Regions from separate parts of the Homo sapiens genome. Here region 2 is linked to region 1. The links come from fine-mapping of genetic effects on gene expression. A gene starts in region 1. The other region holds a variant in brackets. All regions are shown on one strand. Distances are between the middles of the regions.

The links. PIP is the estimated chance that this variant, and not a neighbour inherited with it, causes the effect.
Region 2: its variant is fine-mapped to the expression of QRICH2 in fibroblasts (GTEx, PIP 0.93).

The regions. Positions count from the first base shown.
Region 1 is chr17:76,304,838-76,313,164 of GRCh38, reverse strand. QRICH2 (glutamine rich 2) reads left to right here and starts at 4,889. Exons shown (of 19, transcript NM_001388453.1): 1 at 4,889-5,700; 2 at 8,224-8,283. The coding sequence starts at 5,167. It overlaps PRPSAP1 (phosphoribosyl pyrophosphate synthetase associated protein 1), which reads left to right. Exons shown (of 10, transcript NM_002766.3): 9 at 149-295; 10 at 1,465-3,687. The coding sequence ends at 1,623.
Region 2 is chr17:76,366,372-76,374,698 of GRCh38, reverse strand. No RefSeq gene overlaps it. Among named protein-coding and RNA genes, the nearest start is that of SPHK1, 14 kb to the left of the region's middle. RefSeq lists enhancers at 5,545-6,045, 6,046-6,546. The variant A/G (reference allele first, on the strand shown) is at 3,800.

The DNA of each region.
Region 1 (8,327 bases):
GCTCGTTCTTTGACCCAGGCACACAGCTCTGATTTTCCATCAGAAATCCTCTGAAACTGAGTGCAGAAGAGAGTAGAGTGGTGTGTGCATTGACAGTATGGGCTAGAGGGTGTTTCTTTCCTACCAACTCACTCTGTTCTCCTCCCAGGATGACATTATTGACGATGTGGAGAGTTTTGTTGCTGCCGCGGAGATCCTGAAAGAGAGAGGCGCCTATAAGATCTATGTTATGGCCACCCACGGCATCCTGTCTGCAGAGGCCCCTCGCCTGATTGAGGAGTCCTCCGTAGACGAGGTCAGGCTGCTTCTAAATCTTGAGCCAAGATTTACTGCTGTGTTTTCTGGGAATAATAAAATGATTCAGTCAATACTAAATTGCTTAATCTGTCTATAGCTTTTCTAGCTTTTGCTGGCTAGCAGTTCGTTGGGACAGATACATGTTTAGGAATACAGATAGTCCACGACTTACCATGGTTCAACTTAGAAGTTTTTGACTTTATGATGATGCAAAACCATTGCAATTACGATGTAATGTATAGTATTCGATAAATTACTTGAGACACTTTATTTTAAAATAATCGCTTTTATTATAAAATGAAAGCCTTTGCCCTAGATGATTTTGCCACCTGCAGTCTAATGTAACTGTTCTGGGCATGTTTAAGGTAGGGCTAGGCCAAGTTAATGATGTTTAGTAGGTTAGGCGTATTAAATGCTTTTTTTTTTTTTTGAGATGGAATCTTGCTCTGTTGCCTAGGCTGGGAGTGCAGTGTGGCAATCTCGGCTCACTGCAACCTCTGCCTCCCGGGTTCAAACGATTCTCCTGTCTCAGTCTCCCAAGTAACTGGGATTACACGCGCCGGCCACCAGGCCTAATTTTTGTGTTTTTCTTAGAAACGGGGTTTCACCATGTTGGCCAGGCTGGTCTCAAACTCCTGACCTCAGGTGATCCACCTGCCTCGGCCTCCCAAAGTGCTAGGATTACAAGCATGAGCCACTGTGCCCGGCCTAAATGCATTTTCTACTTAAAATATTTTCAACTTATAATGATGCGTTTATCCAGACATAACCCTGTCATAAGTTGAGAGTTATGTTGAGGGTCTGTATATGTCTATTTGCATAACGGTTTGCTTGGGTACTTTAATTTGACACCCTAGGAGCATTTCTCTTGAGGCTGGAATTCTTCCCTTATGATCTGAGAGTTTTGCATAGCACTGGGGCTCACTGTGTTTCTGCATGGAGACCATGCCATTCCTAAGATTTTTGTCTTGTGTTCTGAGGCCATGTAACTTTTCCTTTGCATAAAATTAGTTAATTTTGGTTTATAAAAACTATACTCGGTGGAACAAGGTTTTGTAGTTTGGAACTTAGGCTGTGGGAACTCAATGTTAGATAAGCTTTTCTGTGTAACCAGCTTGGAGAACAGACTTCAGTAACAGCGTTTGTTTTCCATCACTGTGTGACTAGGTGGTGGTGACGAATACTGTCCCTCATGAGGTTCAGAAGCTGCAATGTCCCAAGATAAAGACTGTGGATATCAGTTTGATTCTTTCTGAAGCCATTCGGAGAATCCACAATGGAGAGTCCATGGCCTACCTTTTCCGAAACATCACTGTGGATGACTAGCTTTCACGAGGGTCTCGACCCTGGACCTCCTGAGGGAAACATGGAAAAAGCAGTGCCATGAGTGATACAGTGTTTCCTTGCAAGGGAGGACTCGAAACAGCCTGGAGTTAGATATCTTCTTTTGCCCGGATTGATGGGGAGGAGGGATTAAAAGAGTCAGGAAGAAGACAGAGCTAATGGATAAATATCATAACATGGCCTTACATGTCTGCTGTCATCAGCCCTGTTCCTTAAAAGTTCTAGCTGCTTTCTTAAAAATAATCTGAAAATCTTATTGATACTAAAGAGGAGTTAAAGGCACATAAAGTCTTAACTCTATAATGTTCATTTAGTTGTTTCAGCTCCAGGGAAATGGAGGTATTGATGTTGAACCTGGTTAGGGAAGCTGAGCGCCTGTGGCCCTATTACTATCCAGTTGGCCTCTCCCAAATCAACTTCAAGTCTTTTATAGAGAATCGTATTTTTCTTTCAGAAATTGTTATGCCTACAGCCATTGAAAAATGAAGCATTCATGTTGTTACATCTTCCAAGGATGTCAGATTAGAAAATAGCATCCCACCTCTGGGTATCTGAGTGGCTCTGAAGTTGCAAATAAAATAATTTGTTGTCTTGCTAGTCTTTTCATTAGACAGCAGAAGACCATGGATACAGAACAGCAGTCAGGTCTGTGGCTGGACACAAACACTTTCCCAGGTTCCACCCTCTTCCTAAGTGTTGAAGCTAAATCCTTGTTGAATACTGTATTTTAAATCTTTAAAAAAAAAAAAAAAAAGTCTAGGTGTGGTGGCTCACACCTATAATCTGAGTACTTTGGGAGGCTGAGGCAAGGAGGATTGCTTGAGCCCAGGAGTTTCAGACCAGCCTGGGAAACATGGCGAAACCCCCATGTCTACAAAAAATACAAAAATTAGCCAGGCATTGGTAGCATGTGCCTGTAGTTCCAGCTACCTTGGGAGGCTGAGGTGGGAGGATTGCCTGAGCCAAGGAGGTTGAAGCTGCAGTGAACTATGATTGTACCACTGCCATCCATCCTGGGTGACAGAGCAACACCCTGTCTCAAAAAAAAAAAACAGGCCAGGGATCGTGTCTTATGCCTGTAATCCCTGCACTTTGGGAGGCCGAGGCAGGTAGATCACCTGAGGTCAGGAGTTTGAGACCAGCCTGGCCAACATGGCAAAACCCCGTCTCTACTAAAAATACAAAAATTAGCCTAGCTAAGTTAAAAGCATAAAAAGACTACAAAGAGGCCAGGCATCATGGCTCACGCCTGTAATCCCAGCACTTTGGGAGGCCGAGGTGGGCAGATCACTTGAGGTCAGGAGTTTGAGACCAGCCTGGCCAATATGGTGAAACCCTGTCCCTACTAAAAATACAAAAATTAGCCGGGTGTTGGGGGAGGGGGTGCACGCCTGTAATCCCAGCTACTCGGGAGGCTGAGGCAGGAGAATTAATTGGTTGAACCCAAGAGGCAGAGATTGCAGTGAGCTGAGATTGTGCCACTGCACTCCAGCCCAAGTGACAGAGCAAGATTCCATCTCAAAAAAAAAAAAAGACTGCAAAGAACTAGTTATTTTGATAACCCCTTAAAGGCCTACTGTGTCCCAAGTTATTGGAATATAATGATGATCGAAAATCCTTCAATTAAATAAACAGTACCTCTCAGGCTGAAGTGAAAAATCTGAACTTGAACAGTAGTTAAAATAGTACAGTTATTCCTTACAATCCATGGGTGATTGGTTCCAGGACTCAACCTCCTGCCCATGGATGTGCAAGTCCCTGATAGAAAATGGTGTAGTATCTGCATATAAGCTATGCACATCCTGGATGACTTGTAATACCTACTGCAATATCCTGTGTAGATGGTGGTCATGCTGTATTATTTAGAGAATCATGACAGGAATCTGTACGTGTTCAGTCGTGGTTGGTTAAATCTGCAGATGCAGAGCTCACGGAGGAGGCTGGCCATGCATGGCACACATTCATAGGTTCTCTTTAAGTAGCCTTGCTGTGCTTCTGTTAGGAAGTTTTATTTATACGTTTTTGGGAAGAATCTTGTATGGGGAAGTCATGTCTCAATTGTTAACACCAGATTTGTCTCGTGCTGTTTAATCCTGCTTTGTAATGAGCTCAAGCACAGGCGCTTGACCAGGTGAGTGGTTTCTTTTCTTTTCTTTTTTTTTTTTTTTGAGACAGAGTCTTGCACTGTCGCCCAGGCTGGGGTGCAGTGGTGCGATCTTGGCTCACTGCAACCTCTGCCTCCCGGGTTGACGCGATTCTCCTGCCTCAGCCTCCCGAGTAGCTGGGATTACAGATGCGCGGTACCATGCCCGGCTAATTTTTTGTATTTTTAGCAGAGGGGTTTCACTATGTTGGCTAGGCTGGCCTTGAACCCCTTACCTCAGGTGATCCACCCGCCTCGGCCTCCCAAAGTGCTGGGATTACAGGTGTGAGCCACCAAGCCTGGCCGTTTTTTTGAGATCAATTAATTTATGGCAGGCTGGGCGCGGTGGCTTACACCTGTAATCCCAGCACTTTGGGAGGCCGAGGTGGGTCGATCACTTGAGGTCGGGAGTTCAAGACCAGCCTGGCCAACATAGTGAAACCCCGTCTCTGCTAAAAATACAAAAAATTAGCCGGGCATGGTACCACGCATCTGTAATCCCAGCTACTCGGGAGGCTGAGGCAGGAGAATCATGTCAACCCGGGAGGCAGAGGTTGCAGTGAGCCGAGATCGTGCCATTGCACTACAGCCTGGGCGACAGAGCAAGACTCCCTCTCAAAAGTAAAAAAAAAATTATGGCAGCACAGAAAAGGGACAATTAGCCACCAGTTAGTCATCTAGTGGCTAATTGGAACTGCCTGAATAGTGAGTGGGTTGTCTTTTCCAAGTTGCTTCACCTTTGATTGAACAAAATATGTGGACTGTCTGAGGGGACCAGGGCCCCAGGACTGCATCCCTTAGACATGGGGCCATAGACATGGGGCCACCACTCTGGAATGGACGCAGCTGATGACACAAAGCATGGTTGCCAGGAAACCCTCAAGTCTTTCCTTATGTGGCCCCGCCAAGAGTGAGTGAATCCTGGCCTTTCTAGGTTAAGGGGATGGATGGAGTCTAGCTGGATCTTAGGAGGCCTCCTCAGCCCGTTGCCAAGGCTCCCCTTGTGATCCTTGTGGTGGCCTTTACTTCCCCCCGCCCCCGTGGCTCGCAGGGAGGCGTGTTGTTACGTGGAATCTTCAGGGCACGCGGGGGCCCCCACGTTTCAAACGTCCGCCGGCGCGGGGACTGGGAGTCCAGGGCTCCAGCTCGGGGACCCGAGGCCAGCGACAGACAGCGGAGGGGTGGCCATCGCGGACCCCGCCGGGGAGCGGAGGCGCAGATTCCCTGGAGGCAGGAGCTCTGTCCAGTGACTCGGCCGGACCCGGGGCAGGGGCGCCCCGAGGACCTCGCAGGGCCCCCGAAAGGCCCCAAGGCGCGGCGTGCAGTGAGCGGGAAGTGGTTGGCCGGCGCCCCGCGGCGGCGCACAGCTCCTGACAGCCACGATGCCGCCCGCGACCACGGTCTCCCTCCGGGAGCTGGCGGACCTCTCCATCGGCACGCCAGAGGTGGGCGCCGTCAACTTCACGGCCCTGCACACGCTCATCGTGGCCATGCTCAAGAACCTCGACCTCCAAAATACCCGGATCGACTTCCAGCCCTCGTCGCCCGAGCCCAGCCGCTCGCTGCAGTCCGTCCGGAGCTCGTTCAGCATCCCGCACCTGCCCGCGCCCAAGGAGGTGCCCAAGGGGGCGCCCCGGGAGAAGCGCAGGGGCGTGGGCCAGGCGCCTTCGTCAGCGCTGGAGAGCCAAGTGAAGGACCTGGGCGGCCAGGTGGAGGACCTGAGCAAGCAGCTCAAGCGTGTGGACGGCCAGGTGCAGGGCATCGCCACGCACGTGCAGCACTTCTCCCAGGCCAGCGGGCTTGACCTGGCCGCGCTAGAGTGGCCGGAGGAGCAGGAGGTGGGCGTGCGGGCGTTCGATAGGGTGCGGACTGGGAGTATCATGAAGGACGCCGCCGAGGAGCTCAGCTTTGCCAGGGTGAGCACGCACACGGAGGCACGCGCAGGCCGTCTGCCTCCTCCAGGCCGCCCTCCAGGCCTAGCCGAGTCCCCACCACCCTGGAGGGGTGAGCGGTGGTGGGGACGGAGGGGATGGGGACCGAGGAGGTGCCAGACCTCAGTGCGACTGGCTAAATAGAGTGGCCCATGCTCTACCTTGCAGTCCACGGGGCTGCAAGACGTGAAAATCCTAAAAGAACGCCACCAAAAGGCCTAGGGCCTCCCCGAGCTGGAGGGGCCTGGGGACCCCACCTCCTAAGTGTAGTGGCCCCATCCCACCCCCTCCTTCCTAGCCCCTGTTTACGGGAGAGGTTCGCCCACCACTTATCAGACATCCAAGGACCCAGAGCTGGCTCAGAGTGGGGCCGGCAACTTCTCAGAAGATTCTTAGAGTGAATTCCCTTTTTAAAATGAATAAGGACATGAAGAGATACGTGTTGAGGACAAAGGCTCCCAGAGAAGGGGAGTCAGGATGGAGAGTTGGACCTCAGCTTCCTATGGCCATGACACAAGCCACAGCAGGCAGGGGACCGTTTCACTTGGACTTTTTTTTTTTTTGAGAAGGAGTCTCACTCTATCACCCAGGCTGAAATGCAGTGGTGCAGTCTCGGCTCACTGCAACTTCCGCCTCCCAGACTCAAGCGATTCTCCTGCCTCAGCCTCCCGAGTAGCTGGGATTATAGGCGCGCGCCACCCCGCCTGGCTAATATTTGTGTTTTTAGTAGAGAAGGAGTTTCACCATGTTGGCGGGGCTGGTCTCAAACTCCTGACCTCAAGTGATCTGCCCGCCTCGGCCTCCCAAAGTGCTGGGCATTACAGGCGTGAGCCACTGAGCCCTGCCTTCAACTGGACTTTTGTTTTCTTGGAGGGACAAATGCATGTAATCATTGAGTATAAGTATTGTCCAGTGAACAGCAGGAAGCAACGCAGGTCAGCGCCAGGAGGTAATAGACACGTGCATGTCTCAGAGCCACCTTAGGTTGGTTCTGAAAGAAAAAGCAGAAGCAACTAGGAAGGCAGCTGGGTGGGGAGGCCAAGAGGAGAGACAGGAGGGGAAAAAGAGGCCGGGAAGAGGCAGGAAGAAGAGGCCAAGCCCCAGCAGGGGAGCCCTGGCCGCTCATGCCCTCCTGCCATATCACCCCAGGTCTCGAGACCGCAGCACCAACTCACTTTTGCTCTGGGAAGCATGTCTGCTTTCCTTTTCAAACTTTAAAGTGTGGTGGGGGTTTTTTTTGTTTTAATTTTTTTGGGTTTTTTTTTTTTTTTTTTTTTTTTTGAGACACATTCTCACTCTGTCACCCAGGCTGGAGTGCAGTGGTGCATTGTCGGCTCACTGCAACTCCATCTCCTGGGTTCAAGGAATTCTCCTGCCTCGGCTTCCCGAGTAGCTAGGATTATAGGTGCACACCACCATGCCCAGCTAACTTTTGTACTTTTAGTAGAGATGGGGTTTTGCCGTGTTGGCCAGGCTGGTCTCGAACTCCTGACCTAAAGTGATCCTCCTGCCTCGGCTTCCCAAAGTGTTGGGATTACAGGCAAGAGCCACTGCGCCTGGCCTTTTGTTTTAATTTTTACGTAATCTTAGATTCTAGAAGTTTGCAAAAGTTATAAAAAGTAACTTGTTTTATTTTTGTTTATTAATATATTTTTTCTTAATCCCAAATATGATAGCACCTTATGTTGTAGCGATTTGCTTTGGTTCTTTTGAGGTGCTTTTCTCTTTAGATAGCACAGATGTTCAGCTACTGTTGAGGTACCTGGCACCCTTCCTTCCTTGTAAGGCAAGGTGGGCCTCATCCTACAGGCTTTCACAAGTGGGTTGGAGCAAACTGAATCCCAGGACCAAAGGGTCCCATCCCTGCAGCAGCACTTACTCCTGCCATGCTACCAGCCAGGTCCCCCACTGCATCTCACTTCCCTTCCTGCACTTGGCTGGGAAAAGACCCAGGAGCCTGGGCTGACTGGCCAGGTAAAAACCAGGTAGAAAGCAGGGGCTCCTGCCTGTAATCTCAGCACTGTGGGAGGCCGAGGCTGGAGGATTGCTCGGACCCAGGAGTTCAAGACCAGCCTGGGCAACATTGCAAGATCTTATCTCTACAAAAAAATGTTTAAAATTAGCTGGATGTGGTGGTGCATGCCTGAAGTCCCAGCTACTCAGGAGGCTGAGGTGGGAGGATCGCTTGAGCCTGAGAGGTTGAGGCTGCAGTGAGCTGTGGTGGCATCACTGCACTGCAGCTTGGGTGACAGAGCAAGACCCTGTCTCAAAAAAAAAAAAAAAAGGAAACCAAAAAAACCCAAGTAGAAGAAGAAACCCTCCCTTTCCATAAGAGCCACACAAATTCCCCCTTTCCTCGTCTCCTGGCACTGAGTCAGTGTGTGAATGTGCGTGTATGCATGTGTGTGTCTGAGTGTGAGAGTGTGTGTGCGCATCTGTGTGTGTGTGCATGTGAGTGTGCGTGTGTAGGGGCCACTGTCATTCTCCTTTCCTGAACTCTTCTTCCAGGTACTTTTACAGCGGGTTGATGAACTAGAGAAGCTATTCAAAGATCGGGAGCAATTCCTGGTAATACCAGCCAGTTCCATGGGAAAGGGCTCTCCAGGGGGCTG
Region 2 (8,327 bases), 62 kb before region 1:
ACAAGTGGCTGGAGGACATACCTTTTCTTTTCTCTTTTCGCATCTTCCCTAGAACTATAATCAGCAAGGTTCTGCACACAAAAATCCTCAAGAAATGCCCGCAGGCAGACCTCTCCCATTGGAATCGCTGGCAGATGCAGCACGGCACCCCAGGGAGGGAGCCGGGTGCATTGCAGCAATGGAGGGCCAGGAAAGGCACCGTCCAACACTCCACCTCCTCCTGGCTGGGCACAGCAGGCTGATGGGTCCCTTGAGGTACAGATGGTCCCAATGCAGAGTTAAAAAGACACATCAGTCTTCGTGACTCTGCATGGCCTAGAAAAATCTATAGCATCAGGACGTGCGGCATTTGCAAACAAGCACAAACCATTTAAGACTGGGTTCAGTGGCACACGCCTATAATCCCAGCATCTTGGGAGGCTGAGGCGGGCGGATCACCTGAGATCAGGAGTTTGAGACCAGCCTGACCAACATGGTGAAACCCCGTCTCTACTAAAAATACAAAATTAGCTGGGCGTGGTGTCACATGCCTGTAATCCCAGCTACTCAGGAGGCTGAGGCAGGAGAATTGCTTGAACCCGGGAAGCGGAGGTTGCAGTGAGCTGAGGTTGCGCCACTGCACTCCAGCCTGGGCAACAAGAGCGAAACTCCGCCTAAAAAAAAAAAGACCGAGTTCCGATTCCAATTGCCGTGTGACAAGTATCTGCCATTACTTGACTCTCAGATTGAGAATTTTGAGCTTCTAAAGAAAGAAAACACTCAATAACTGCAAAAGATGATAAACTCAGGGTTGGCTCTGCCTCCTTTCAGCTCTTGGCAGGCGTGTCATTCCTGAGGGAAGAGGCATGTGCAGTCCCACTAGCAGATCTGTCACCTCAATTTGCAGCCTTTAGTGGTATAGGAGCATGCCGCCTGGGAAAGGCTGAGCGGGAGCCAGGAGCCACAGCAAAGCCCAGGACGCTGAAGAGCGTGCTTGTCTCGGAGGCCTGAGTCTTTTTTTTTTTTTTTTTTTGAGACAGGGTCTTGCTCTGTCACCCCAGGCTGGAGTGCAGTGGCGCCATCTCAGCTCACTGCAACCTCCGCCTCAAATCTTTTTTTTTTTTTCTTCCGGATGGGGTCTCACTCTGTCACCCAGGCTGGAGTGCAGTAGCGCTATCCCAGCTCACTGCAACTTCCACCTCCTGGGCCCAAGCAATCCTTCCACCTCAGCTTCCTGAGTAGCTGGGACTACAGTCACGCACCACAACCCCCAGCTACTTTTTTTTTTATTTTGTATTTTTTCTAGAGACTGGGTCTCACTCTGTTACCCAGACTAGTCTCAAACTCCTGGACTCAAGCAATCTGCACACCTCGGCCTCCCAAAGTGCTGGGATTACAGGCATGAGTCACACCTGATCAATTTAGTTTTTAAAAGCATGCTTGGAGCCGGGCGCGGTGGCTCGCGACTGTAATCCCAGCACTTTGGGAGGCCAAGGCGGGCAGATGACGAGCTCAGGAGTTCGAGACCAGCCTGGCCAACATGGTGAAACCCCATCTGTACTAAAAATACAAAAATTAGCTGGGCATAGTGGTGCGCGCCTGTAGTCCCAGCCTCTTGGGAGGCTGAGGCAGGAGAATTGCTTGAACCTGGAAGGTGGAGTTTGTGGTGAGCCGAGATCGTGCCACTGCACTCCAGCCTGGGCAGCAGAGCGAGACTCCGTCTCAGAAAAAAAAAAAAAAGAAGCATGGTTGGGTGGCTGTCTGGGTGACGGCTGCTGCAGGAGGGCAGTGTGGCAGGGGTTTCTCATCTGCAAGGACCCTGAGCAGAACAGCAGGAACCTAATTCTAGTTCTAAACCAACAGCCTGCGTGTCACGTATGCTCAAGGAAGGCTGGCATGTCACCCATGAAAATGGTCTTCACAGATGTGGAAAACTAAGCCAGATTTACCAACCGGTGCTTGAGAAAAATGTCTTTTAGAATGAGAGACTCAGATTCCTTAAAAAATTAAGCATAGGGTTACTATATGACCTAGTAATTCCACTTCTAGTTCTGGTCTGTACCTAAGAGAGATAAAAACATGTCCACACAAAAACTCATCCAGGAATGTTCATAGAAGCATTATTCACAATAGTCAAGAGGTGGAAACAACCCAAATGTTGATGGATGACTGGATAAAGAAAATGTGGCCTAGTCACACAATGGAATATTATTTGTCCATAGAAGGGAATGAGGTCCTGACACATGCTACAGCGTGAATGAACTTCGAAAACATGACGCAGAGTGAGAGTCCAGATGCAAAAGGTCACCTATTGTATGAGTCAATTTCTACGAAATGTCCAGAATAAGCAAATTTGTAGACAGAAGGCAGGTTGGTGGTTGCCAGAGACTCTGGGGAGAGGGAGAATGAGGTAGAACTGCTTACTGGGCATGGGATTTCCTTTTGGGGTGATGAAGATGTTTTGGAACTACATAGACGTAGTGGTTTCACAACGTTGTGAGTGTACTTAATGCCACTGATTATGCACTTTAAGATGTTATGTGAATTTCACCACAGATTATTTATTTTTCTTTTTATTATTATTATTTAAAATGTCCGCTATTTAAAAAGGAATCTTGGCTCGCTGCAACCTCCGTCTCTCTGGTTCAAGTGATTTTCCTGCCTCAGCCTCCCCAGTAGCTGGGACTACAGGCGCGTGCCACCACGCTCGGATGTGGTAAGTACTAAGAGGACTCCTGAGTTTGGCCTCGGGCTATCCCTTAAGAAAAGCTGCTTTCTGGAGAGAAGGCAACAGATGCACACAAGGGTGCCTGCCTAGGGAATGGCTGAGGGCCGCATCTACTTCTGGGGTCATTTAGCACTGAGGTTTCCAACTAGGGAGCACGTAGGAATCACCTGCAGAGCCTGTGCCCCACTGCCAATGACTATGACTTCACTCACTGCTCTGGAATTTTTCATTTTCTTTCTTTCTTTTTTTTTTTTTTTTTTTTTTTTGAGACAGGGTCTCTGTCACCCAGGTGGGAGTGCAGAGGCACAAACACAGCTCACTACAGCCTCAACCTCCTGGGCTCAAGCAATCCTCCCACCTCAGCTTCCCGAGTAGCTAGGACCACAGGGGCATGCCACTGTGCCCAATTTTTTTTTTTTTTTTTTTTTTTTGGTAGAGACAGAGTCTCACTATGTGGCCCAGGCTGGCCACTCTTGAGCTCAAGTGATCCTCCCACTACAGCTTCCCAAAGTACTGGGATTATAGGCATGAGCCACTGTACCCAGCCTGGTCTGGAATTTTCCAGAGTTCCCCAGTGATTCTAAGGTACAGACAAGTTTGGGAACTACTGACTTAGTATAAAGGAAGGCTGTTTTCCAAGTAGATGAACAAACTAAATAAGGATTCAGGGAGATTTGTGTAATTGCCACAGAAAACTTCTTGAAAGGCATTAGGCCGTGCACGGTGGCTCACACCTGTAATCCCAACACTTTGGGAGGCTGAGGCGGGCGGATCACTTGCGATCGGGAGTTCGAGACCAGCCTGGCCAACATGGCGAAACCTCATCTCTACTGAAAATACAAAACTTAGACGAGCATGGTGGTGGGCGCCTGTAATCCCTGCTATTTGGGAGGCTGATGCAGGAGAATTGCCTGAATCCAGGAGGCGGAGGCTGCAGTCAGCTGAGGTCGCACCGCTGCACTCCAGCCTGGGTGACAAGAGCAAAACTCTGTCTCAAAAAAAGAAAAAAAAAAGAAAGGCATTAGGAACTATAGTGATCCCAGTGACTATTTCACATCTGGAAATGAATCAGGCATACTGCAGAAATGACAC[A/G]TACTATTATAATCTCTCCCCACATCCTCCCAGACACCGGCGTGGGAATGTGGGAACAGTGACAGCACTGGCTGCCACCCAGGCTCTACGAGAAGCGGGGTCAGGCCTGGCTTTGCCGTTCCTACAGTGGCTCCCGCTAGGTGGTGTCAAAGCAGGCGCTCTTGTGAATTAAAAAAAAAAAAAAGCTAAATTAAATCCTATTTCCCTGTTGAACAGTAATACAATTTTGAAAATGCATTTTTCTTAAGAGCTAATTGGTATTTAATTACTGAGGGAGTCTATTTTCCCTAGTGTGTAAAATGAAGATAAACTTACCTTCCTACCATGAGGACTTTGAGACCGCACCCTGGTGGCCAGCTAGGATGTTAGCCTAGAATTTTCCTGCTGCCTCCACCTCTCGCCGCACTGTTATTTCCCAATATGGGTTAGGTTTCTAAGAACCTGACCGTGTTTCCATGGTGGTAGTTTTGGAATAGCAGCTTGAAATGTGTGAAGGAATGGGAAAGGAATGATGAGAAGAGGAGAATGAAGGAGGAAGCCATGGGTCAGTGGGGAAGGGGAAGGAGGTGCTGGGAAGCTCTCAGGTCAAGGCTACCTGGCTTAGGAGTTGGCTCTATGCACAGTCTGGAACTTGGGCTCATAACGGTGTCCGACTCGTGTCTTTCCACCAGCCCTGATATCCCATTTGTGTGAACCCTTCCTGGATAATCACTAGAAAGACAATTTTTCATCCAAGAAAACAGCATATGTTTCTGAAAGCACTTGACTCCCTGGGGAAGTGTTCACATTATCTGCTTCTGAGTAGTGAACCATCCTAAAGTGCAGTGGCCTGAAGCAGTAATTTACTAACCCCCACTGTGGGCTGCCGGCTGATGGGTCTCAGCTGGGTGGTCCTCACTTGGAGTCTCCGGTGGTTGCAGCGTCAGCGGGGCTAAACATCTGAGACAGCTCCTTACCATGGCGATGATAACAGGCGCTGGCTGTCAGCTGTCAGCTCAGCTGGGGCTGCTGGCCAGAGTGTGGCCCCTTGTGTGACATGGCGGCAGGGCTCCAGGAGGGAATGTCCCAGGAGTAGTCAGTCCAGGAGACCCAGGCCGAAGCTGCAAGGCTTTTCATGCCTGAGCCTCAGACATCCCAGAATGTCCCTTCTACCACTTTTTGGTCAAGCAAGTCACTGAGACCAACCCAGATTCCAGGGACAGGAGTTAGAATCCCCACCGCCTTTTGAAGAGCAGTTCATGCTGTGTCGCCCAGGCTAGAGTGCAGTGGCGCAGTCTTAGTTCACCGTAACCTCTAACTCCTGGGGCTAAAGCAATCTTCCTGCCTCACTTCCCAAGCAGTTGGGACTACAGGCATGCAGCACCACCACCGGCTCACTTCCCTCTCAATACAAGCGGCTAACGTTTATCCAGCTCTTGTTTTGTGCCGGCCCCGGGCTAAGCGATGCACATATGTAGCCAGTTTCATGAAGGACACATGTCCTGTTAAAGTGAACATTAACAAAAGGTTTAATTTTCTCTGATAAACACCACCAGCTCTGTTTGTTCGAAATCTCCATTTCCACTGAGCATAAGATTCCCCACGAGGGCACTCAGTATGATTCCACATTTTTCTAGCCATGTTTTGCTATTAAGACAGCCTAGTGCCGGGCGCAGTGGCTCACGCCTGTAATTCCAGCACTTTGGGAAGCCAAGGTGGGCAGATCACTTGAGGTCAGGAGTTCGAGACCAGCCTGGCCAACATGGTGAAACCCCATCACTACTCAAAATACAAAAATTAGCACAGGGTGTGGAGGTGCATACCTGTAATCCCAGCTACTCAGGAGGCTGAAGCATGAGAATCGCTTGAACCAGAGAGATGGAGGTTGCAGTGAGCCAAGATCGCACCACTGCACTCTAGCCTGAGCGACAGAGTGAGACTGTCTCAAAAAAAAAAAAAAAAATGAAAAAAAAAGTCAATCCTGCCTCAAAAGACCCTCATCCCTTCCCAGCACAGGCGCCAACACTGGGGTGAAGACACGGCACGTCTCTTCCCCCACCGCCCCATCCCTGTGCTGATTCTGTGAGGCTGCGGCAGGAAGGAGAGAAATTGAAAGCAGATGTGATTCCCGCAGGGCCTGATGGGTGGTGGCGCTGCTTTCCCCTTGCTGGGGGCTTTGTTGCAGAGACCAGGCTTTCTCAAGCTCAGCACTGTTGATGTTTGGGGCTGGCTCATTCTCTGCGGCAGGGGCCTGTCAGTGCACTGTTCCTCAGCGTCCCTGGCTTCTGCTCACCAGATGCCAGTAGCAGCCCCCAAGTTGTGACAACCAAAAATGTCTCCGGACCTTGCCAAATGCCCCTGCGGGACACACTTGCCACTGACTGAGAACCAGGGCTCTACTGATTTGGTGTGGCCAAGGGACAGCTGCTCAGGCCTGCTGATGAGAGGCGGTCTCCTAAGCGGCTCCCCTGGGTGACACGTTCTGCTGACTCCAGGAGGTGGCCTCATGCCATATTGCTCTGAGAGGGTACCCCCACTCCCAGTCCCGTAATCCGCAGGACTGGGATTCCCATACTCTGGACTCGACCATACTCTAGACTTGACTCTGGGCCCTTAGGTTCAGCATCCATCTTCTGAAGGGGACCAGGTGCGGTGGCTCACGCCTGTAATCCCAGCACTTTGGGAGGCCGAGATGGGCAGATCATTTGAGGTCAGGAGTTCAAGACCAGCCTGACCAACATGGTGAAAACCTGTCTCTACTAAAAATACAAAAATTAGCCACGTGTCGTGGCCCACACCTGTAATCCCAGCTACTTAGGAGGCTGAGGCAGGAGAATCATTTGAACCTGGGAGGTACAGTGCGGGGGTGGGGGGAGTCCGTCCCGCAGATCCTGACCCAACGACGGATGAATAACTTACACTGACACAGATATTCTGCTTGTCAGTCCAGCTAAGGGTCTGGGCCCCTCACAGACACCAAGGAAGGTGCTGTAAAGAATAGCAGCCATGGCCTCGACTGGCTGGCCCTGCTGGCATTTGTTCAGCACACATTAAATGACAAACGTCTCAAGTAAACACCACTAGAAGGTAATTACCATTGCTCACCCCCCAGGTAGACAGCAATCTTGCACCCATGGATGGTCAAAGGTTAGTCTTAGGACCACGTGGGTAAACAAGCTATTTAGATAGACTCCTCTACATTCCTGTGTTAATTACCCTTGCTATAACTCAAAGAGGATTAGGCTGCCTTCAGCCATAACTCTATTTTGAGGCTTTTGCAAAAACCTTCAGGCCTTCCAAGAAAGTTTGTGTTTATTTTACAATTTCTCCCACCATCCTGACTGAACCCCTCCAGTGGAGGTTGCAGTGAGCCGAGATTGTGCCACTGCACTCCAGCCTGAGCTACAGAGCGAGACTGGTCTCAAAAAACAAACAAACAAACAAAAACGTCTCCTGAAGGGATGGGTGGTCCCAGCCCTCAGTGCTTTCCAAACCTCAGGAGCCCCAGGGCAGAGCAGCCAATGCACAGCCAAGACAGCCAGCAGGAACACAGGTGTGCTTCCCTGCCCTCCCACACACTTGACAGACAGTGATTCCACTGTGTCCCCAACCCCTACAACCTCCATCTGGTTTCAAGAGAAACCAGTCAAGTCCTCTCAAAAGAGTGAGGCTTGGCCGGGCACGGTGGCTAACGCCTGTAATCCCAGCACTTTGGGAGGCCGAGGCAGACAGATCACTTGAGATCAGGAGTTGGAGACCAGCCTGACCAACATGGTGAAACCCCGTCTCTACGAAAAATACAAAAATTAGTTGGGTGTCGTGGCAGGCACCTGTAATCCCAGCTGTTCAGGAGGCTAAGGCAGGAGAATCACTTGAACCCGGGAGGCGGAGGTTGCAGTGAGTCGAGATCGCGCCATTGCACCCCAGCCTGGGTGACAGACCGAGACTCTGTCTCAAAAGAAAAAAAAAAAAGAGTGAGGCTTGCTCAGGCATGGCTCACACTTGTAATCCTAGTACTTTGGGAAGCCGAGGCAGGCAGATCACCTGAGGTCAGGTGAGAGAGAGAAAGAGAAAAATGAGGGGCTGGGCGGGGTGGCTCACGTCTGTAATCCCAGCACTTTGGGAGGTCAAGGTGGGTGGATCACCTGAGGTCAGAAGTTCGAGACCAGCCTGACCAACATGGTGAAACCCCGTCTCTACTAAAAATACAAATATTAGCCAGGTGTGGTGGCAGGCGCCTATAATCCCAGCTACCCGGGAGGATGAGCAGGAGAATCACTTGAACCTGGGGGTTGGAGGTTGCAGTGAGCTGAGATCACGCCACTTCTTTCCAGCCTGGGCGAAAGAGCGAAACTCCATCTCAAAAAAAAAAAAGATTGAGGCCTTTTCTCACAGACACCAGCTCTCCCCAAAAGGTGGCCCCTTCCCTCACTTCTCTCCCTCTTTCTTTCAGGGCAGGTGCAATGACATTTGACACCAACTACCTGGGGTTGGGCCTCAGGTGATGCCTTCCTCCACAGGACAGCCCTCACTTCAGACACCAGCTGCA